3 separate regions of the Homo sapiens genome follow, and all the other regions are linked to region 1. Evidence: fine-mapped expression QTL. A gene starts in region 1. Each other region holds a variant in brackets. All regions are shown on one strand. Distances are between the middles of the regions. Region 1 holds the start of ASB1 (ankyrin repeat and SOCS box containing 1). Region 2 overlaps RBM44 (RNA binding motif protein 44). Region 3 holds the start of LOC107986003 (a long non-coding RNA gene).

The links. PIP is the estimated chance that this variant, and not a neighbour inherited with it, causes the effect.
Region 2: its variant is the best candidate, but not a certain one, in a credible set for the expression of ASB1 in fibroblasts (GTEx, PIP 0.83).
Region 3: its variant is the best candidate, but not a certain one, in a credible set for the expression of ASB1 in whole blood (INTERVAL, PIP 0.88).

Annotation. Positions count from the first base shown.
Region 1 is chr2:238,423,038-238,429,301 of GRCh38, forward strand. It overlaps ASB1 (ankyrin repeat and SOCS box containing 1), which reads left to right and starts at 3,890. Exons shown (of 5, transcript NM_001040445.3): 1 at 3,890-4,082. The coding sequence starts at 4,034. It overlaps LOC124908002 (a long non-coding RNA gene), which reads right to left and starts at 3,857. Exons shown (of 2, transcript XR_007088163.1): 1 at 1-3,857. RefSeq lists enhancers at 2,471-3,006, 4,519-4,638 and silencers at 3,339-3,728, 3,749-4,268.
Region 2 is chr2:237,811,297-237,818,534 of GRCh38, forward strand. It overlaps RBM44 (RNA binding motif protein 44), which reads left to right. Exons shown (of 16, transcript NM_001080504.3): 2 at 2,296-2,386; 3 at 5,697-7,238. The coding sequence starts at 2,314. Among named protein-coding and RNA genes, the nearest start is that of RBM44, 16 kb to the left of the region's middle. The variant G/A (reference allele first, on the strand shown) is at 3,365.
Region 3 is chr2:238,458,674-238,465,911 of GRCh38, forward strand. It overlaps LOC107986003 (a long non-coding RNA gene), which reads right to left and starts at 2,190. Exons shown (of 2, transcript XR_001739969.2): 1 at 1-2,190. The variant G/T (reference allele first, on the strand shown) is at 3,247.

The DNA of each region.
Region 1 (6,264 bases):
CCTGCTCTGGGACTGAGATTTCCTCACCTCTGACTCCTCCCGCTGTGGCAGTGACCAGCACATGGTAGTTGCCTTCCACAGGTGCTGCCTGGAGAGACGCAGGCCCTGGTAGAGGATGCAGGGGCTCACTGAGCGCTGTGGCCTCCTGACACTAGTGGAGTTCTCGGTCACACCAAGGGAGGCAGCACAGCACCTGTGAGGGGGGCTGAAAGAGGGCACCCCCTTGGCAGGACTCCCAGGGCCCACACTGTCCTCTGCAGTCCCCACAGCTGGGCTTCCCGGTCCTCCCTGGGACCTCCACTGCCAGGCTAAACCACATCCAGGCAGAGGCCGACCTGGCTGGAAGAGGGAGGCTTCGAGGGCTGCAAGGAACATCACGGCCTGGGCCCTGCCCAGCCCCACCAGCCCCAAGCTGAGGGCCTGCTGGGACACTGCGTCTACCCCTGAGCCCTGCTCTGTTCCAAGCTGGGCAGAGAAGGTGGGCTCAGTTTAGGACAGGGTGGGGTGGGGTGGGAGGCTGGAGGTGGGCGTGGCTCCACTCAGCAAAGCCATGCCATAGCGTTAGCAGCCATGGCACCGATGCCCACTGTGTCCTGAGGCTCTCTCTGCCCCAGGAAGCCTGTGGCACATTCTATGGGATTTTGTGTCTTTACAAAGCCTGCAAAGTGGGTATTATCAGCCCGATTTGACAGGGAGGCAGCTGGTGCTCAGAGGAGTCACCCTGTCCTGGTGACTCAGCTGGAAGGATGTGGATCTGCCTCCCTAGCTTGGGGCAGACACCCTGACTCTCTGCAGGTGGGCTCCAAGGCCTGAGACAGGGTCTGCGGGGCAGGGGCTGGTAAAGATGTTTCCAGGGCAAAGCCTGGAGGGTCAGCGGGCTGCCCTCATCTCGTGGCCTCACCTGGTAAACCTTCAGATCCCCTGCTTCCTTCAAAGCAGGAGATCCTTCAAAGGGGAAGAGAGGGCTGGGCCTCCTGGGAGGAGACACCCCAAACACAGGCCCACAGGGCCTAGGATCAGGAGAGATTCCCATTTCTGGTCCCTGCCTGGGTGACATCTGCTGCCCAATTCCCGGAGACAGCTGTGGGGGTTAAGCGACAGCAGCACCAGCACACCCAGGCCCAGCAGGATCCTCACCAGCCTGCAGCTGTGGAGCTCATGTTTCCAGCCCCCCATATACCTGCCATGCTTCCAGAGGGGCCCCCAGTTCCCTGCAACAGGAAGGATGAGGGATGGGGGCCCCTTCTCAGACCTCCTGAACCAGAAAGTCCATTGTTGGACATTTTTGTTATAAAATGATGGTAATGAGCACTACTGTAGCTGAATCTCCCCCACATCTGATTATTTCCCTAGAATGAATGCCTGGAAGAGGCATTTCTGATCAAGGATTATTCATTCTTATGCTTTAGCTAGACTGCCAAATTTTCCACCACAAAGACTGGGCTAGGCTCCACAGAGGGGTCACTGGGGACACTTTGGGGGAGGCCTGAGCCTCCAGGAGGCAACAGGAAGCGACGGGTGATTTTAGGGGTGGGAAAACGGGAGGGAGCCACTGGGACCTGGAGGGGCAAGACAGCCCACTGCACTGGTCCTGTTGCTGCTGTGCTGGGCTGGGATGGCACTGGTAGGCACTGGTAAATCCCTGTTGCTTGTAGGTGATGGGACCCAAGTTGCTTCATCTCTAGCGGTCACTGAGTGTCCCTGTGTTGGTGGGTCTTTTGGGCTCAGAGGACCTGGAAGAAGAGGGACTCTGGAGAGGTGAGGTCAGAGGGGGAGACAGGCTGTAGGGCTGGACAGTCTGGATGTGATCCCAACTCAGCCACCTGTGGGCTATGTGGTTTTGGGCATAGCACCAGGCCCCCAGATCTCAGGGTCCTGAGAAATGGGGGTGATGGTATTGGCAGAGTGGCCAGCAATTGAGTGTCCTTCCCCCTCCAGCACTGCTGGCTCTGTGGACACTGCCCTGCACCATGTGGGCATTTAGGAGGCACGGAGGTGGGCATGTGAGGCCACCTCCCCGCTACAGACCACGTGCGGCCTCAGGTTCTTCTAAGAGGCAGGATCCCAAGGGCAACACGTGGCAGGGAAGGTGGAGGTGCAGGTGCAGGAGGGCCACTCTGCTCAGGGACTCAATACCTTGATGCAAAGGCTACCGACACGCAGAACGCTCACTGTGAGCCCACCGGGACCAGGCAGGCAGAGCAGCGGAGGCCCCCGGAGACGTGGCTCTCACCAGGCTGCACTTTAGAATCACCTGGGTGCTCTGAACCACCCAACACCCAACCCGCACCCCTGACTGACTGCACCGGAACCTCTTTTAAAAAATTCTTTAAAACAATTGTGGTAAAATATATAGAACATAAAACTTAACCTGCTTTAAATGCGCAGTTCAGTACTGTTAATGCACAATTCACATTGCTGTGTGACCCGTCTCCAAAACTTTTTCATCTTCCTCAACTGAAGCTCTGTCCCCATGAAAAACTAACTCCTCATTCCCCACTCCCCCAGCCCTTGGCAACCCCCATTCCGCTCCACCATTTCACTGCTCCAGGGACCTCAAATAATTGGAATCACACAGTACTGTATTTGTCTTTTTGTGGCTGGCTTATCTCACTCAGCATAACGTCTTCAAGGTCATCCGTGTTGTGACGTGTGTCAGGATTCCCTTCCTTTCTAAGGCTGAGTACGAATCCATTGTATGGACGGACAGCATTTCCTTTCTAAGGCTGAGTACGATTCCATTGTATGGATGGACGGCATTTCGTTTATCCATTCATCCATCCAACAACACGTGAGGCGGCTTCAGGCTTCGGAGTTGCTGAAGCTCCGAGTTCGGGATGTGCAGCTGTGGTGGAGCCAGGGGCTGGGCACACCCCTGGCTCCTGGCCTGGCAGCGTCATCATCGGAGTCACCTGTCCCTCATGCCAGTGGTGCTCTCTGCTGTCATCAAGACCAAACACCACTGTAGGAAGTACCCCCACTCCCGCCTCCAACCCCCACAGGGCCTGCCAGGTCTGCCCCCAGTGGGCCCCCTGGTGCATCTGGGCCACCCAGGGCCAGCCTCAGCAGGGGCACTCGCGGGGCTGCGCCTGCGGCTTCCCTTACTCCAGTCTGGAATGTTGTACACACGGATGAGCCAGCAGCTCACGCCCACGACTGCTGGGGTCTCCGGACTCCCTCATCAGCCTCCTGCTGTGCTGTGTACAAATCCTCCTCCTGCATGAGGCCCCGCTGTCTAACTCAGCAGGGGAGAATGGGAGGAGCCAAGGGAATCCGTGCTTTAGGACCAACACCAATACTCATGGTGGGACGACGCTGCGATATTTGAAGTTGGGAGTGTGCAAGAAATGTTACTCGGTTGTTCACGAATGCATTCATTTATTCAATGAACTTCGCGTCAGCCACTGGCTGTCATCAGTTACCGACCTGATTGAGGGCTTCATGGAAGGGATTTGGAGGAGCATTCATCTAAAACCACAGCACGCTGCGACGCTCAGCCCTGCAGTGGGCCCTCACCAGTCCCCGCGCCTCCGAATCCACCCTCCCGGGGCTGCTCGTGGCTAGCGGGGGGCACCTGCGGGGACCAAGCCAGCCCGGCCGAGGCCCGGGTCCCGCCCGCCACGGCCCTCGGGGCCCCGCCCACATCTGGCAGAAGCCACGCCCCGTCCGTGTGGGTGGGGACGGCCCGCCGGACCGAAATTCCCAGACTGCTGCCTCAGGCAACGGGCTTTCCGACTCCTTGGCTTCTTATGTGAGGAAACCACAGCGCGGCCGGCATCCAGAGAGTCGGTTAGCCGCGAAGTTCCCGCCGGACGAAGGGACCAGCCAGCGCCCTGCTAGACAGCGAGGCCGGAAGCGGAGGCGTGGCCCCTGCGCGGCCCCGGAAACCAGTGAGGCCGGCGCGCGCCCGCCGGAAGCCGCGACCCCGACGCGCCCCCCATTGCCCTCGGCGCCGGAAGTGGTCGCGGGTCGTTCTGCTTCCTGCCCGAGGGGCGTGCGCGGGTCAGGGGCGGCCGCGGAGGCGGAAGCATCCATGGCGGAGGGCGGCAGCCCAGACGGGCGGGCAGGGCCGGGCTCCGCAGGTAACGTGCGCGCGGCCACTGGGCCGCGGGGCGTGTGGGGATGGCGAAGGGCTGGCTCCGGCGTCCCTGCCGAGGTCCTGCGTCCTCGTCCCGGGCTGGCCGGGTCCACGGGGCAGCCAGGGAGCCGCACCCTGCAGGCCGGGGGTGGGGTTCAGCGCGGCTCGCAGTGCTGGGCGACCCCACCACGGACGCGCTGCCCTCTCCTCGGCCTCGAGTGCAGTCCCCGCGCTAGATTTTCTTTCCGGTGGAACTTGCTCGTAACTTCCTTCCCGTTAGCCGATACAGATTTGATATGACCCAACCGCAAAAGTAGGACGTGGGCCACCTTCCAGCTCTGAGCGCACGGATCAGGAAAGCCAGCCAGAGGGTAGCCCTAGGGAGGGCAGGCACTTTTTCACCATTCTGCCGCCCACGGCGTGTCCGGTGGTACAGCGGGGGGCAGCCTTCCCACCCACCACAGGCACAGACCAGGGACAACGGGGACGCCGTCTCCAGCGAGCTCGTCAGTGACACAACATGTCCAGGGGCCTTTGGCCCACCAGCAAGGGAGGCAGATAGAAAGGCTCACACCCACCTTCCAAAATAACTGTCCTACTTAGGGTCTCCACCTTGCAGTGTCCCTACCATGCAGATGTGAAGGAAGCGGTCAGGACAGGTTCCCGTTTCCCGGTGGTGTGGTGGGAGTTCCTTCTTGCTGGATTTCTGAGCTTGCCATTCGCGCCAATAGTTTCGTGTGTTCTGGGCTTTCTTTACATGCCTATATTTGTCTTTGGAGGGGTTCCTCTCCTACTTAGTAATAAACCAATACATTTCTTAAACATCTTAAAAGATTGACTTGGAGACTGGTGCAGATAGGCTTTTCCATCCATCCCTCCCTCTGCACCTCCTTCCAATCATTTAACAGACTTGTATTGAAGACCTGCTGTTGGCTAGACCCAGCAGAGGATACTGCAGTGACCAGAAAAAGCCAGACAAAGCATCTACCATCCTGGGCTTTGGTTGGCGTTGACTTTGACTTCAGAGACAGCCAGGACCTTAGGGTCTAGGATGTCATCTCATGTGAGAGTGAGAGACGGAATGATGCGTGTTCCGTGGGAAAAAGAGGACCAACAGCTACTTCCCAGTATAAAGAGAGTTCCTGGGGAATAAACACTGGCTTTGTCGGCTGCACAGGTCTCCTTTTTTTTTGAGACGGAGTTTCGCTCTTGTTGCCCAGGGTGGAGTGCAGTGGCGTGATCTCGGCCCACTGCAGCCTCCGCCTCGGGGGTTCAAGCGATGCTCTGGCCTCAGCCTCCCTAGTAGCTGGGATTACAGGTGCTGGCATCATGCCCGGCTAATTTTTGTATTTTAGTAGAGACGGGGCTTCACCATATTGGCATATTGGCCAGGCTGATAGCGAACTCTAGACCTCAGGTGATCTGCCCGCCTCTGCCTCCCAAAGTGCTGGGATTACAGGCGGCAGCCACCACACTCAGCTGAGGGCTCCTTTTTATATCCTCATGCACTGCTGTTTTGTTATTCAGTGTGTTTCGGCCTCGGGTAGAGGGGCAACAGATTTTCAGTTGAAGCTTAAGTGCTATCCTGGGGCAGTTGTGTTGTCATTGGAGTAGTTGATCAGCGAAACACAAACTTGAAGTTGCTTTTGAATCTGGAGCTGGGGAAAGATTCTGAGTCTACTTTGAGCAGGGCCAGGAATGGATAGCACAGAGGCCAGCAGAGGGGGCCCAGAAGAGGGCTCAGCAAAAGTCCTGTGGCCGCCATTTACCTGTTGGTTATTGCCCTACACCTGAATCTTTCCCACTCCGACTTTGAACTTTTTCACTCTGTAGTAACCGCAACTGTGGAGTAATTACAGGGGAGGATAGTTACTGAAGGAAGACTGGGGTGGTGGCTTAAAGAGCTGTTCATGCCGGCTTGTTGATCTGCGGCGAGTCTGGTTGTGGGATCAGCATGAGCAACTCAGTGGACTGTCAAACCCTGCAGAGCCGGGACACTTACTCATCACCCCCGTTTCACCTGTGGTTGAGTCTCATGTACAGTAGTACTGAAAAGAGATTAATTTTAATATAAAAAACAATGTCAGCATCTGGAAAGAGCCCCCTTATGGAGGGGGTGCTTTATACCTGCCTGTCTGGTCTCACACTAGGACAGCATGGCAGAGCAGGGACTTGAATCCAAGTGG
Region 2 (7,238 bases), 610 kb before region 1:
AGGTTTCCAGTTGCCCAGACAGGAGTGCAGTGGCATGATCATAGCTCACTGAGCCTCAACCTCCCAGGCTCAAGTGATCGTCTCACCCCAACCTCCTGAGTAGCTGGGACTACAGGGGCAAGCCACCATGCCTGGCTAATTTTTTAATTTTTTGTGGAGTCGGGGTTTTGCCATGTTACCCAGGCTGGTCCCAAACTTCCTGGGCTCAAGTAATCTGCCCACCTTGGCCTCCAAAAGTGCTAGTGTTACAGGCATGAGCCACCGTGCCCAGCTACCATTTCTCTTTGCTCCATGGTTTGATAGGAATTGATATAAGATGTATCTTTGATGGCCTTTTCATTTTTTTTCATGGTTGATAATGCTGTTCACCTGCTTCTGAGTCTTTAAAAAAAAAAAACTTTTCCTAGAAAATTGCCTATTTTTGTTAAATTTTAAAATTATCCTTCAGTGGCATACATGGCATTCTCAATTTTTAAAAGTACCTCTTTATTGCTTGCTAAAATGCTCCTTTTCTCAATGCTCATTTTTGTTTCAGTCTTCTCTTAACGAGATTTGTCTTGTCTTTTATCTACTTTTTCTTTGGAGTCTCGCGCTGTCACCCAGGCTGGAGTGCATTAGTGCAATCTCAGCTCACTGCAACCTCCATCTGCCGGGTTCAAGTAATTCTCGTGCCTCAGCCTCCCAAGTAGTTGGGACTACAGGCACATGCCACCACACCCAGCTAATTGTTTGTATTTTTAGTAGAGACAAGGTCTCACCACGTTACCCAGCCTAGTCTCGAACTCCTGAGCTCATGCAATCCACCCACCTCAGCCTCCCAGAGTGCTAGGATTACAGGCGTGAGCCACTGCGCCCAGCCTGTTATTTACCTACTTTTATTAGTCTTTTAAAAGAATAGCTCTCCATTTTAGTTACCATTTTTACTATTTTTAAAGTGATCACTTCTGTTTTTGTCTTAACTAATTACATTTTAAACTTTTTTGGCTTATTTTTAGTTCTTTCCTAGATTCTTGAGAGTTGACTGTTTAATTCATTTATTTCTAGCTTTATTTAATAATAAGCATCTAAAGCTGTGACTTCTTTTGGATGTAACTTTGACCATGTCCCGTAGATTTTGGTAGTCTGTATTCTTATTGTCATTAATTTATTTTAATTATCAAAGTCCACATAGCTTACTAAGTGGCAAAGTCAGGATTCAAGGCTGTCTCCATGACATGAGATCTGCTTTTTAATATCTTCTCCTTGTAGAACAGAGACAGTACATTTAGATGATTTTTTTCAGGATCAGTGATTGAAATAATTCAGAGTTAAAACAAAATGAATTCCTTTTTTTTCCCCAAATTCATCAGGAACCTTTGTAACACTTGATTAACAGAATTCTGCTGTAGATACCTCAGCTTTTAGGGGTATGGAGAGTGACAATAAGTAGGGGACAGAGGCTCAAAATGATTTTGTGAGTTGGCTGGACTTCCTTCTGCTTGTCGCCTCTGGGATCATTTCATGTGTCCATTGGGATATTCTACCAGTAATTAGCTTGGGCTGCTTCATGTGGCAGCTGGGTTCAGAGTCATTATATGGATATCCCGATTACCCTGAGTTGATTTTATGAATGTACCAAATTCTTGCATGTACCCCCAAAATATGTACATCTAATATGTATTAATAAAAAGTCATCATTATTACCTTTTTAAAACAGTTTTGTTGAGTTATATTTTACTCATTTCAGTGATTTTTAGTAACCTTATCAAGTGTCACAACCATCCCATCATAAACCTGTCTTAGAACATTTTTATCCCCCATGCCCATTTATAGCTAATCTCTCTTCCCATCTCCCACAACCTATCCCAGGCAGCTACTAATATACTTTCTCTATATACATTTTCTTGCTTTGGACGTTTTACTTAAATGGAATTATGCAATAGGTGATCTTTTTTATCTAGCTTCTTTCATTCAGCAAGTTTTTGATATTAACCCATGAGGTAACATATATCAATAGTTTATTTCTTTCTGTTGCTGAAAGATTTTCCATTGTATGGATTTGCCAAGTCATTGGTTTTTAGTAAGTGTACAAATTGTCTTGGAAACTTTTTATCTAGGTTCGACATAAATAGGGTGATATTATGGTCTTTAAGACTCAATTTTTTAGATTTAAACTTCTTTTAGTGACCTAATGCATTGGTTTTTTAAAAAATGTTCCTTGGAAATTTTAAAAGGACATATCTTTCTGTCCTTTATGTAGTTGTCAATTTATGCTTTTTAAGTATAATAATAGTTCAATATTTATACCTTTTCTAGATTATATATCTTTGAATGATGCAGGCCACTGCAGTGGTGGAGACAGCATCTGGTAAAGGCTACCACAGTAATGGAGGCAACCTCCAAAAAGGTAAGGGTCTAGTCCACTTACCCTTATTCTTGGTGGGGAAGGGTGTTAAATGTATTGTGCCAGACAGTTTGCCCTTCAGGTTGCTGCTTTTTAACTCTTCCTCCCTCTAAGGTGGTAAGACTCAGTATATTTTTAACTTGCCAAATTGACTCAGGTGATTTTTGGTGGATCAGGGCAGTCTAGGCAGGACCTTTCTTTAGGAAAGGGAAAGTGAGCAGGAAGAAAGGATTTCTGTCCAGCCAGCCTTTCAAGAACTGCTGACAGGTATAACTGCCTTCAGGGTGATAATCAGAAAGTGAGCAGGTTGACTTCTGCTGCCCAAGTTGTATATGTTTTCTTCTTCCCATAAATCTGAAATGTATTTTTCCTGGGTCATGGCAGCAAGAAAATAAGAAATAGCAAGAGTCTAAAAAGCAAGATGACTAAACTTTATGTGCTTATGACTGTATGTAGCTTAAACTATTAAGATATATATATTCTAGATTAAAACAAAAACTCTACATTGTTCATGAGACATATTTAAAACAGAAAAGAAAGGTTTAGGATAAAAGGATGGACAAGTTAAACAAATTAACTTAAAAATTTGGGGTGATAGTAGTAAAGAGCATAATCAATGCAGAAAGCATTGTAAGACGATTAAGAGGGTCATTTTAAAGTGATAAAGTTATACAATGAAGATGTCATTCATGAACCCTAATGGAATAAACAGTATACTTTGTATTCATACATTAAATGTTGGAAATCTAGGGAAAGGCTACTGGAGATTGGACATGATAATGGTTCTCTATCTCAGTAAATCCCAATAGGGTATTTTATGCAATTCAAAATGGTCCCCCAAAAATAAACTTAAAAAAATCTATTGAAGAGAAGGTAAAATAAATTTTAAAATACAGGAAAAAACTTACCAGATATAAAAATAACCTGTGATACTATAATAATTAAAACAGTAATACAGTCATACAAAAAGATAATAGGTTA[G/A]TGGAGTGGAATAAATAGAAATAAATTCTTAGAAAATCATGAAACAGAAACAGGAAGACTTCAGAATATGATAAAGATGTTGTTTCAGCTCAGAAGGAAAACAATGGATTATTTGGCAAATGGTATTACGACAATTGACCATCCATTTTGGAAGAAAGTTAAGTTAGAGTTCTACCTTATGCTAAAGAGGAAAATAATACTCTGTGTAGTGTAAAAAGACTAAGTGTTAACCCCCACCCCCCCCTACACACACAATTAGAATAAATTATAGGAGAATATTTTTATAATTACTTGGTAGAGAAGACCAAAGACACAAAACCTAGAAGTTACAGAAGACTGATGCACTTAACTAAATAACCTGGAAAATTCTGATATGACAAGATACTATAAAAAGTTAAAGCCAGGCAAGCTACTTGGGTGGCTGAGGCAGGAAGATTGCTTGATGCAAGTCTAGCACCCAGGCAACATAGCAAGACCCTGTCTCTTAAAATAATTTTTAAAAATTAAAAGATAAGCAATAAGCTAGGAAAATTCAGTTATATTACAAATGTTAAAAAGAAAACAAAGAATTAGTATCTAGAATATATAAAAGACTCCTAAACAACTCTGTCGTCTCCAACCACATATTTATAACAGCTTACTGGACAGACATTCACATCTGGGTGTTTTATTACTAACCTCAAACTCTACTTGCCCAGAATTGAACTCATTATCCTCATCGTCCTCCTCATTTTTCCCTTCTACCTTCTAATCTGCTCTTCACACAGTCCCTATCTCTTTAGCCCTGAATATTCCCATTCAACTATAGTACCAAGTTGTAAACATGTAAGCATTATCTTTGAGTGATATTTAAGTGAGTATTTATTGGCCAATTGGTAAGTCATAACATCAGTTTAGCTGATTGTGATGAATTTTTTTTAAAGAAATGGAATAGAATAAAATAGAAAATACAAGAATACATTGGACATGGGTAAAATTTTTGTTTTACTTATACACATACATATATGTATGTGTGTACTGGGTCATGATATGACCAAAATGTAATTCCGATTATGATCTTAGTAAAAAAAAATCTTTTGAAAACCACTGCTCTCTCTCTTCCTCTTACTATCATCTCTAATTGGCCACCAAGACATGTCAGTTGTGGAACTTTCATACCAGTCTCTTCTTTAGTCCCACCTCTGTTTTGGTACCTGCCTTTTTTCTCCTCTTTCAAGTTTTTAATCTTTCTGTTGCCAGGAATGACTACAACTCAATTCCAGTCACATGACTACCCTTTAATGAAGTTTTCAGTGGTTTTTGGTTGCCTTAGAATAAGAGCCAAACTTCTTAGCACATCATAAAGGGCCTTTTTCAGTTGATAATTCCTGTCATACTCGTAAGAGTTCTTTCACTACAGACAAGTCTTAAAATTTCCTGAAAATGCCATGTTCTTTCACACGGCTAATTGTACTTGCGTTGGATTTGCCTAAAATAATTTTGTCTATTTTGTTTCAAAACACTTTTTAAATACAAAGTTTTTCTGAAGTCTGCTTCCCTTTTTTTCAAAAATTTACCTGCTCCATCAACACAACTCTGTCAGCACTGTGTTAAAATTACATTTTTGTGTGCTTACCTTATGACCCTATGAAAACTATAAGCACTTGGGGACAGCATCCGTGTCTTCTTTTTCTTTGTTTTTACAGTGCCTAGAGCTAGCACTGGAGGCGCCCAAAGATTTATTAAATAAATTTATAAGAAAAAAGTTTCTTATTAGACCATTTTACAAACAGTGGCTGCCCTGTAAACAGTAAATTTCTTCCCATCGAAAGAATTCAAGAAAATCTTAGCTGTTGTCTTAGGTCAGGCTGCCATAACAAAATACCATATAGTGAGTGGCTTAAACAACAGGTGCTTATTTTCTCATAGTTTTGGAGGCTGGAAGTCTGAGATCAAGGTGCCAGCATGGTCAGGTTCTGGTGAGGGGTCTCTTCCTAGCTTGTAGATGGCTGCCTTCTTGCTGTGTCCTCACATGAGAGAAGGGGGAGGCAAGCTCTTTTGGTCTTTTCTTGAAAGGACACTAATCCTATAATTAGGGTCTTGCCCTCATGACCTCATGTAAACCTAATTACCTCTCCAAGTCCCCATTTCCAACATATGGGTCTGGCCTTCAAGGCATCATTTGGGAGGACATGGTTCAGTTTTTAGCTGCTACTGAAAGGGATATTTTTCATGGATGATGTAAATTGTAATCCCGCATTGGGAAGAGCTTAAACCAGATCATGTCTAAGGTTTTTCTAGTGTCTAGATTCTGTAATGTTGCTGTTAATGTTTTTATCCTTTTTTTAATCAGATAAACCTTCAAATCCAAAGAAAGAAAATTTGTTATTATCCTCCAATGGTTGTGATGAAGTCAAATTGACTTTTCCTGATGATGACTGGAATTCTTCGACACTAGAGCAAAGAGCTAATAATAAAGAAATCAGCAATATTGACAAAATGGATTTATTAGAGCCATTTTTTTCAGTGAGTCAAGATACTAACACAGAGAGTACTCAGTTTCAGTCAAGTGAACTTGAAGACAGTACTGACTATGCTTTCTTGAATAAAACATATTCTATACCTTATTCAGAGTCAAAACTAAAGAAGGAAAGTCTTACTCCTTTAAGTTCAGAATTAGATCCTGAAGTGCAGAAAAAAGAGGAGGTTTTTTTTAATATTTTGGAACATCAAGATAAGACTGTTGGCTTGGAAAGAATCTACAATATTTCAGATGCTAATTATAGAGAAAGTGCTGAAGATACACAAAAGCATGATACAGATGAAGACTCACAGCAGGAATATCACAGTGCAGAAGAACAAGAATACATAAGTAACCATTTATCTTTTGACCAAACAAAAGCATTAGATATATCTAATCCAGAAGTTGTTGAATTAGGAAATTCGGGTTATGAAGTTAAATGTGCTAGCAATGTAGAAGATAATCGTGTTAACTCGGGAAGTGGTTCTATCATCTCTTTCGATTCACTTGATGTTTATGGACAAGAAGAGTCACTTCATGTCTCCAAATTTCAGAATTCTGTTATGTTAAGAGAATATCATGACCTAAAGCATGAAAAGTATAAGGAACAAGAGACTAATTCAATGTACCACACTGTATTTGATGGCAGTGTACTAAGAAGCAATTCTCCAGGAAACCAGGAATCTCAATCTAAGAGTGGTTCCTTGAGCCCTCAAAAAGTATTAAAAATGAAAATTTATACTGAAAACATGAAATCTCAAATAAATGAAGGTAAAGATTTTTGTGGAAATAAAATTGTTGAGAACAAAATATTACTGCACCTTGAAAATCCTAGCACATTACCACAGGATAAAGCTTTAGAGACATTACTCCAACCCTGTAAAGATTGTCAAACTTCCTGGACCTCTGTTTTTGATGATTCGATAATTTCTGCCTGTGGATATTATGAAAGCCTACAAAACACTGCTGACTCAGCCTTAGATTTTTCTGCTATGCTACCAAAGATCGCAGTCAGAGATAATCAGGCAATAGAAGATAATACGTCCCTAAAAGTTGCTCATAGCAGTACCACAAAGAAAACATGCTTTCACAATATAGGAGAAATGTGTACTAAATCATTGACAGATGCAGCAAGTTGTACAGTCACAATTAATCAGACAGTGGACGTTAGCACTGATTTTAGGGCTTGTTTCACAACCAGCAGGGCAACAAGTGCAAGACCTTCTGTAGTATCTACATCAAGCAACACAGAGATAACAATGATGAATAAAAAACGACCTGATGAATGGCAAAATGAGAAACAAAAAAGTGTGGCTTGTAGTACAGATTGGTCATACAGTGAAGATTGTATAGATACACAGATGGCTATAACAA
Region 3 (7,238 bases), 36 kb after region 1:
AGCCTAGTCCAGGGTGGAGAAGTTCACTGGGTTGCCCTGGGCCAGGGCTTCATGTTTGGTAGGGTGAAGCTGTGGGCAGGAAATTACTTGCTGGGATGCCAAAGAAATTTGCGGGACAGCTGCTTGCAGGGCATGCTTTTGGACTTGCTGGGAAGCTGGAGCAGGCTGGGCTCCCGGGGAATGCTGGGCGGCTGCCTGTGGGGCAGCTGAACTTTTTGGGAGGCCTGGGACAGCCGCAGAACTCAGCCAGGATGCTCCGTGTTGGGTGCTGCTGAAACCTGCTGGAGGTAAACTCCACTGGCGTCCCACATACCCGCGAGTGCCAAGGGAGTCGGAAGGAAGGAAAGCACAGTGGAACTAGGAAGAGAAACCCCTTCCTCTTACCAGTGTCCCTCCAGAGCCGCCCACTGACAGGCTCATCAGCCCTGTGCCAGCTGGCAAGGAAGGTGTGCTCCTGGATCCCGGCAGAGCACTGGGGAATGATCTGCAGGCTGGAGGAGGAGGCGTGTCATGTGCTTGAAGCAGTGTTGCAGGCTTCTTCCTCAGGGGACCCAGCCTTACTTTCAAGAATCTTGGCCTGTGAATTGAGCTAGGTCTGGGAACTGGGAGAGAGGCTGTTGCTATCCACAGCTGTGACTCAAGTCAGATTTTTGGCTCCCAGACCTAAGGTTTTCTGCTTTATTCCGTCAGTCAGTCCTCTTGTATTCCTAGGGATACCATGTTCAATTAGCCACTGGCAAAGAGCCCTGCGGACCAGGGTGTTTTGATCCCCAGCGTGTGTCTGCTCCCTCCCTTGGCAGACGCAGCCGCCTGGTCTTTGCTGGTCAAGTCCTGGCATTTGGCCTCTGCTCCTTTGGAACCCTATCATCCCCATTGAAATCAGAGAGCCCAGCTCAGTGGCAGTGTCCCTGCCATCGCACCTGCCTGCCAAAGAGAGCAGTTGCAAAGCTTCTCAGGGATGCAGGTGCTCCCAGGCATTTCTCAGTGCCCAAGTGAAAGTGAGAGTGCTTTGGAGCCTTCTTGCAGTGTGTAGTTGAGAGAGAGGTGTGCGGGTCACACATGTTAAACCCAGTCCAATGGTCCCATCTCCCTACGCCTCTGGAATCCCTCCTCCATGCTGGGAAAGCTCTAGCATCTCAACCTTGTTAAGTGTAGGTCATTTCTGAGTTCAAGTTTCAGTCAAACAATCAAATAAGCAGTTAGAGCCATGTGGCTTGTTCCTGGGGCGTGCCTCATTGATGGATCCAGTACGTGGAGTGGTGTGAACCTTCTGCTTCAAGGCGAGAGACCACAATTGGTGGTGATGTCAGGTAATGGGATTTTTTTTTTTTTTTTGAGACAGGGTCTGTCTCTGTCACCCAGGTTGGAGTGCAGTGGCGCAATCTCAGCTCACTGCAGCCTCTGCCTCCCGGATTCAAGTGATACTCAGTCTCCTGAGTAGCTGGGATTACAGACGTGAGCCACCATGCCTGGCCAATTTTTGTATTTTTAGTAGAGATGAGGTTTTATCATGTTGGCCAGGCTGGTCTCAAACTCCTGGCCTCAAGTGATCCACCTGCCTTAGCCTCCCAAAGTGCTGGGATTACAGGTGTGAGCCACCATGCCTGGCTAGTACCAGGATTTCTTACAAGGGCTCTTTCTAACCCACTGCCTTTTGTTGGAGAAATTGATGTTATTGGCATATTTTAAAAATCATGTCCAAATGCAGCTACAGAACATGAAGAAAATATTTTCTAGAGTGAAATGCTTCAAAGAGTGAACAAGGAATCCATCTGCTGCCATTCCCCCAATCCGCTCTGTCCCAGTCTCCAGGCTGCGAGGGGGGCCAGTGTGGTGTCTGATGACGCTGTAAGTCATCCTCAGGGACAGCTCCAAAGGTTTAGCATCACGTTTGATCCAAATGTTCAGAACGTCTCACAGATGGGTGTCATTTCTGAAAACCTGTAACTGTAGGCTAAAATTTTCTGATTTAGTTTAAAAAAGGAATAAAAAAGAATAAGCAAAGAAACTGCCTGGAAGTGAGACCTGTGCTTTAGCTGGACTTAGCCATCACTGAACCAGACACAGATGCTTTGGTGAAGGGTGCAAAAAGGTCATCCCTTCATCCCTCTCAGAAATGAAAGTGAGGTAGTTGACAATAATGAAAAAACGTTTTATTTATTAAAATGGGTGATCATTAAAAATGTCTATTTAAAATGAGAAGTCTGTGTTTGTGAATGCTGAAAGCTGAGGAATATTACCATTGGTCAGTGGTTCTTAATTCTGGCTGCACAGTGCCTGAGGTGTGTTAAAAAGCTCCCGATGCCTGGGCATTGTCTGGATCAACTGTGTGTTAGTTTCCTATTGTTACTAACAGATGACACAAGCTTTGTGGCTTAAAACAAGACAGATTTGTTATCTTACAGTTCTATAGGTCAGAAGCCCCACATGAGCCTCACTGGGCCAAAATCAAGATGTGGGCAGAGCTGTGTGTTTCCTGGAAATGCCAGGGAGACTCCATTTCTTTGCCTTCTCCAGCTTCTAGAGTCTGCCCACATTTTTGCCTTGTAGCCCCCTCCTCCATCTTCACAGCCAGCAACAAAGTCCTGGCTGGGGGTCCTCCCCACACCACATCACTCTGAGCTCCACTCTGCTGCCCTCCTACACTTTTTAGGACCCTGTGATGACACTGGGCCAACCAGATCATCCAGGATGATCTCCCTCTCTTAAGGGCAACTGAATAGCCACACTAATTCCATCGGCAACCCCAGTTAGAGCAGCATATTCACAGCTTCTGTGAACTAGGATGTGGCCATCCCCGGGAGCCTCTTACCTGCTGACCACAGCCGTAAAATCGGAATTTCTGGGAGTTGAGCTTGAGCCTCAATAGTTTTAGAAACCCTCCCAGTGGATTCTAATATGAGGCCATTTAACTAGGACTGGTTATGGGGAACAGCTGGAGGGTTTCAAGAAAGGAAGTAATGCAGCCCAATCTGTATTTTAGAAATACTGCTCCAGTTACACTGTCAGGGGTGGGCTGGTGGGGGAGGGAGGACTGTGATGGGACTTGAGTCAGTGGACAAGCGACAGCTGTGGGGATCAAGGCAGTCTTGGTTTTGCTAGCCATTCCTCAAAAGGATCAATGTCCACTACGTGAGTACTGCCCTGGGGTATGGGAGATACACAAATATTTTGAGGAGTCTTGGACAAGACCGAGCCACAGTACGAGACACCCAGTACAGCACCTCCCACCCGCAGAGGTGTTTT[G/T]TTTTTTTTTTTTTTTTTTGAGTCAGGGTGTTACTCTGCCACCCAGGCTGGAATGCAGTGGCACGATCATAGCTCACTGCAGCCTTGAACTTCTGGGCTCAAACGATCCTCCTGCTTCAGCTTCCCGGAAAGCTAGGACTGTAGTTGCTCACCACCACATCTGGCTAATTTTTAATTTTTTTGTTTTTGGTGGAGACAGGGTCTTACTATGTTGTTCAGGCTCGTCTCAAACTCCTGGCCTTAAGTGATCTTCCTGCCTTGGCCTCCCAAAGCGCTGGGATTACAGGTGTCAGCCACCATGCCTGGACCTCCTCCAGAGTTCTTGAGCAAGGCCATGCCATTGGTGGCAGCGAATTACATGCCTTTGTGGAGATACAATCACACACCATAAAGTTCACCATTTTAAAGTATGCTACTTTAAAGTGTAACAGTTTTTAGCGTATCCACAAAGTTGTGCGCTGATCACCACTGTCTAATTCCAGAACATTTCCATCACCCCCAACAAAAAACTTCATATCTATTCGCACTCACACCCCAGTTCTGTCCCTGCCAGGGCCCGGCTACAATTAATTTGCTTTCAGTGTTTATGGATTTATCTATCCCATTTATACTTATGTAAATGGAACCATATAATATGTGGCCTTTTGTGAGTGGCTTCTTTCACTTAGCATGATGTTTTTAAGGTTTGCCTATGTTGTAGCATGTGTCAGAATTTCCTTCCTTTTCATGGCCAAATAGTATTCTACTCTGTGGATGCACCACATTTTGTTTATCCATTTATCAGTCCATGGACATTTGGGTTGTTTCTATTTTTTGGCTATTGCAAATAAGGCTGCTATGAACATTTGGGTACAAAGTTTTATATAGATACATGTTTTCAGTTTTCTTCAGTATATACCTGGGAATGGAATTGCTGGGTCATATATTAACTCAATATTTAATTTTTGAGGAACTGCTGAACTGGTTTTCTCAGTGGCTGAACTATTTTACATTCCCACTGTCAATGCACAAGGGTTTTGATTGCCCTACATTCTTGCTAACACTTGTTATTGTCTGTCTTTTTGATTTTACTCCCCCTAGTGGGGATGAATTGGTATCTCACTGTGGTTTTGATTTGCATTTCCCTAGTGAGTGATACTACCACACATCTTTTCATGTGCTCTTTGGCTGTTTACATATGTCCTTTGAGAAATGTATGTTTAGATCCTTTGCACGTTTTAAAATTGAGTTGTCTTTTTATTGTTACTTAGAAGAGGTCTTTATATATTTTGGATATGATTCTCTTATCAGATATTTGATTTGCAAATATTTTCTCCCATTCTGTAGGTTTTCTTTTAACTTTCTTCATGATGTTCTTTGAAGCACAAAGGCATTTAATTTTGAAGAAGTCCAACTTATCTATTTTTCATTTTTACTTGTGCTTTTGATGTCAGATCTAAGAATCCATTGCTCGATCCAAGATCATGAAGGTTTACTCCCATGCTTTCTTCCAAGTCTTATAGTCTCTTAGTTGTTACATTTTATGTCTTTGATCCACTCTGAATTAATGTGTACATATGGTGTAAGGTAGGGGGCCTAACTTCATTCTTTTGTATGTAGATATCCAGTTTTCCCAGCAATTATTTTTGTTGAATAGTCTATTCTTTCCTCTATTGAGTTGTCTTGGTGCCCTTGTCAAAAATCAGTTGACCATGGCTGGGTGTGGTGGCTCACACCTGTAATTCCAGCACTTTGGGAGGCCAAGCCAGGTGGATCACCTGAGGTCAGGAGTTTGAGATCAGCCTGGCTAACATGGTGAAACCCCATCTCTACTAAAAATACAAATTAGCTGGGGGTGGTGATGGGTGCCTATAATCCCAGCTACTCGGGAGGCTGAGGCAGGAGAATTGCTTGAACCCAGGAGGTGGAGGTTGTAGTGAGCCAAGAGTGCACTACTGCACTCCAGCCTGGGGGACAGAGGGACACTCCATTTCAAAAAAAAAAAAAAAAAAAAAGGAAAATCAATTGACCATTAATATAAGGTTTTATTTTGGACTCTCAATTCTATTGATGTATTTCTAACCTTATGGCAATACAATACTGTCTTGATTACTGTTGTTTTGTAATAAGTTTTGAAATCATGAAGTATGAGTACTGCAAGTTTGTTGTTTTTCAAGATCATTTTGGCTATTCTGGGTTTCTTACATTTCCATATGAATTTTAGGATCAGCTTGTCAATTTCTTCAAAAAAAGGCAGCTGGGGTTTTTATAGTAATTGTGTTGAATCCATTGAGTATTAGGGGGAATATTTCCATCTTAACAATATTAAGTCTAATAATTCATTATCCCAAGATATCTTCCAATTTATTTAGGTCTTCTTTGATTTCTTTCAGTAATGTTTTATAGTTTTGGGGGTGCATGTCTTGCTCTTTTTTGTTAAATTTATTTCTAAGTATTTTATTCCTTTTAGTGCTATTGTAAATGGGATTGTTTTCTTAATTTCATTTCAATATGGGAAGCATAACACAGTGCTTGCCTGGTAGGGTTGTTAGGACAGCTGGATGGGCCAGCAGGCAGGCACCTTACGATGCCTGTCTTTTGAGAGATGCTCAGTGAGCACTGGCTGTCATGGCTCCTCCACCTCTCTTCCCGCTCCCCGCCACACCCAGGACCCTGAATGAGGGTGGTGCTGTGGCATCCTAGTTAGAGCTTGAGGCTTCAGAGCCAGCGGGGCTAAGATTATGGTGCTAATATGCCCTAGCTGGGGGGCCTTGGGAGCGTTTTATAGCTGACTGAGCTTCTGTTTCCTCATTTGCAAAGTGGGGCTGCCAATGCGATGTCGTTTGTGGGATGTTGTGAGGGATAAACGACGCAATGCAGCTCAGACACGGAGCATCATGTCTGGCCCACGCTTCACTGCATCCGGGATACCAGTGTTGATAAATGACATCACTGACTATGCCAATCACAGTTGACACCGCCATCGCTGGTGTGACGCACCCTGGCATCAGAGGTGGTAAAATGTGGACCCCATGTCTCTTGGCATTGCAGAAATGCAGGATTTCTATCATGCAGTTGCCTCTTCCACACAGTGCATGGCCTGGACAATCCCAGCAGGCTTTTCCTATGTGACTCACTTTCATGTACATTTAAAAAAATTAGGAAAGAAGCTTTCTGTGACCCCCAGGTACTCCAGCTTCTGTTGGTGGAAGTCAGGAGATGTTACAGGCCTAACGGAATCAAGGCCTCAGGTATTTAAGCTATTCTTTGTTTCCTACAGGAAAGAGAACTTTATACACAAGGTGGGTCCCCTGAAGATTAGATTATCAGTTGGAAACCTGAGTTCCAATGTATTCCCACTGTTGGATCTCTGAATGCTGTGCTTTTGACCGGGGTCTCCTGGGCCCCATATTCTAATGGTCAGTTTCAGGTTCCTCTTCTTTCACCTCTGCCTGTGGAGGCAGGAGGCATGCAGTGATCATCACCCTCCTTCTTCCAGTGTTTTCAGTCTCTGCTCTCCAGGGACCAGTCTTCTGCATATCATGTCTCCTGGTTCCATCACAGCCATGTGAAAGCACAGTCACCCTGGAGAGGAACAGAAGGCAGAGTCAGCCCCTACCTGTCTTACGTGCGCCAGGGAAGAACGGACTCATGGCCCTTCTGAGACTTCAACCTGAGGGTCGGTGAATGTCAGAACAGCAGCAACAGCGAGGGCTGACTCCGGCTTTGACCTTCAGACCCTGAGCAGCCAGTGGAGTCTAGCTCAGTCTCGGCTTTCACTGTGGACACTGAGGCTTAGGGAGGTGAGGAGACACAGCTGGCTGTGGTGGGCCCCCGCCCTGGCGGTGCCAGGACCAAGCCCAGGGCCTGTCTCATGCCGTGCCCTATGCCTTCTGAGCTGAAGAGGAGCCTGTTCGTTGAGGAACTAAGAGTGGATTAGAAGAGTAACGGATGCTTTCTACAGAAGCAAGCGGCCTGGGTTTGGAATGAGGCAGCCTGTTCGTTTGCTGTGC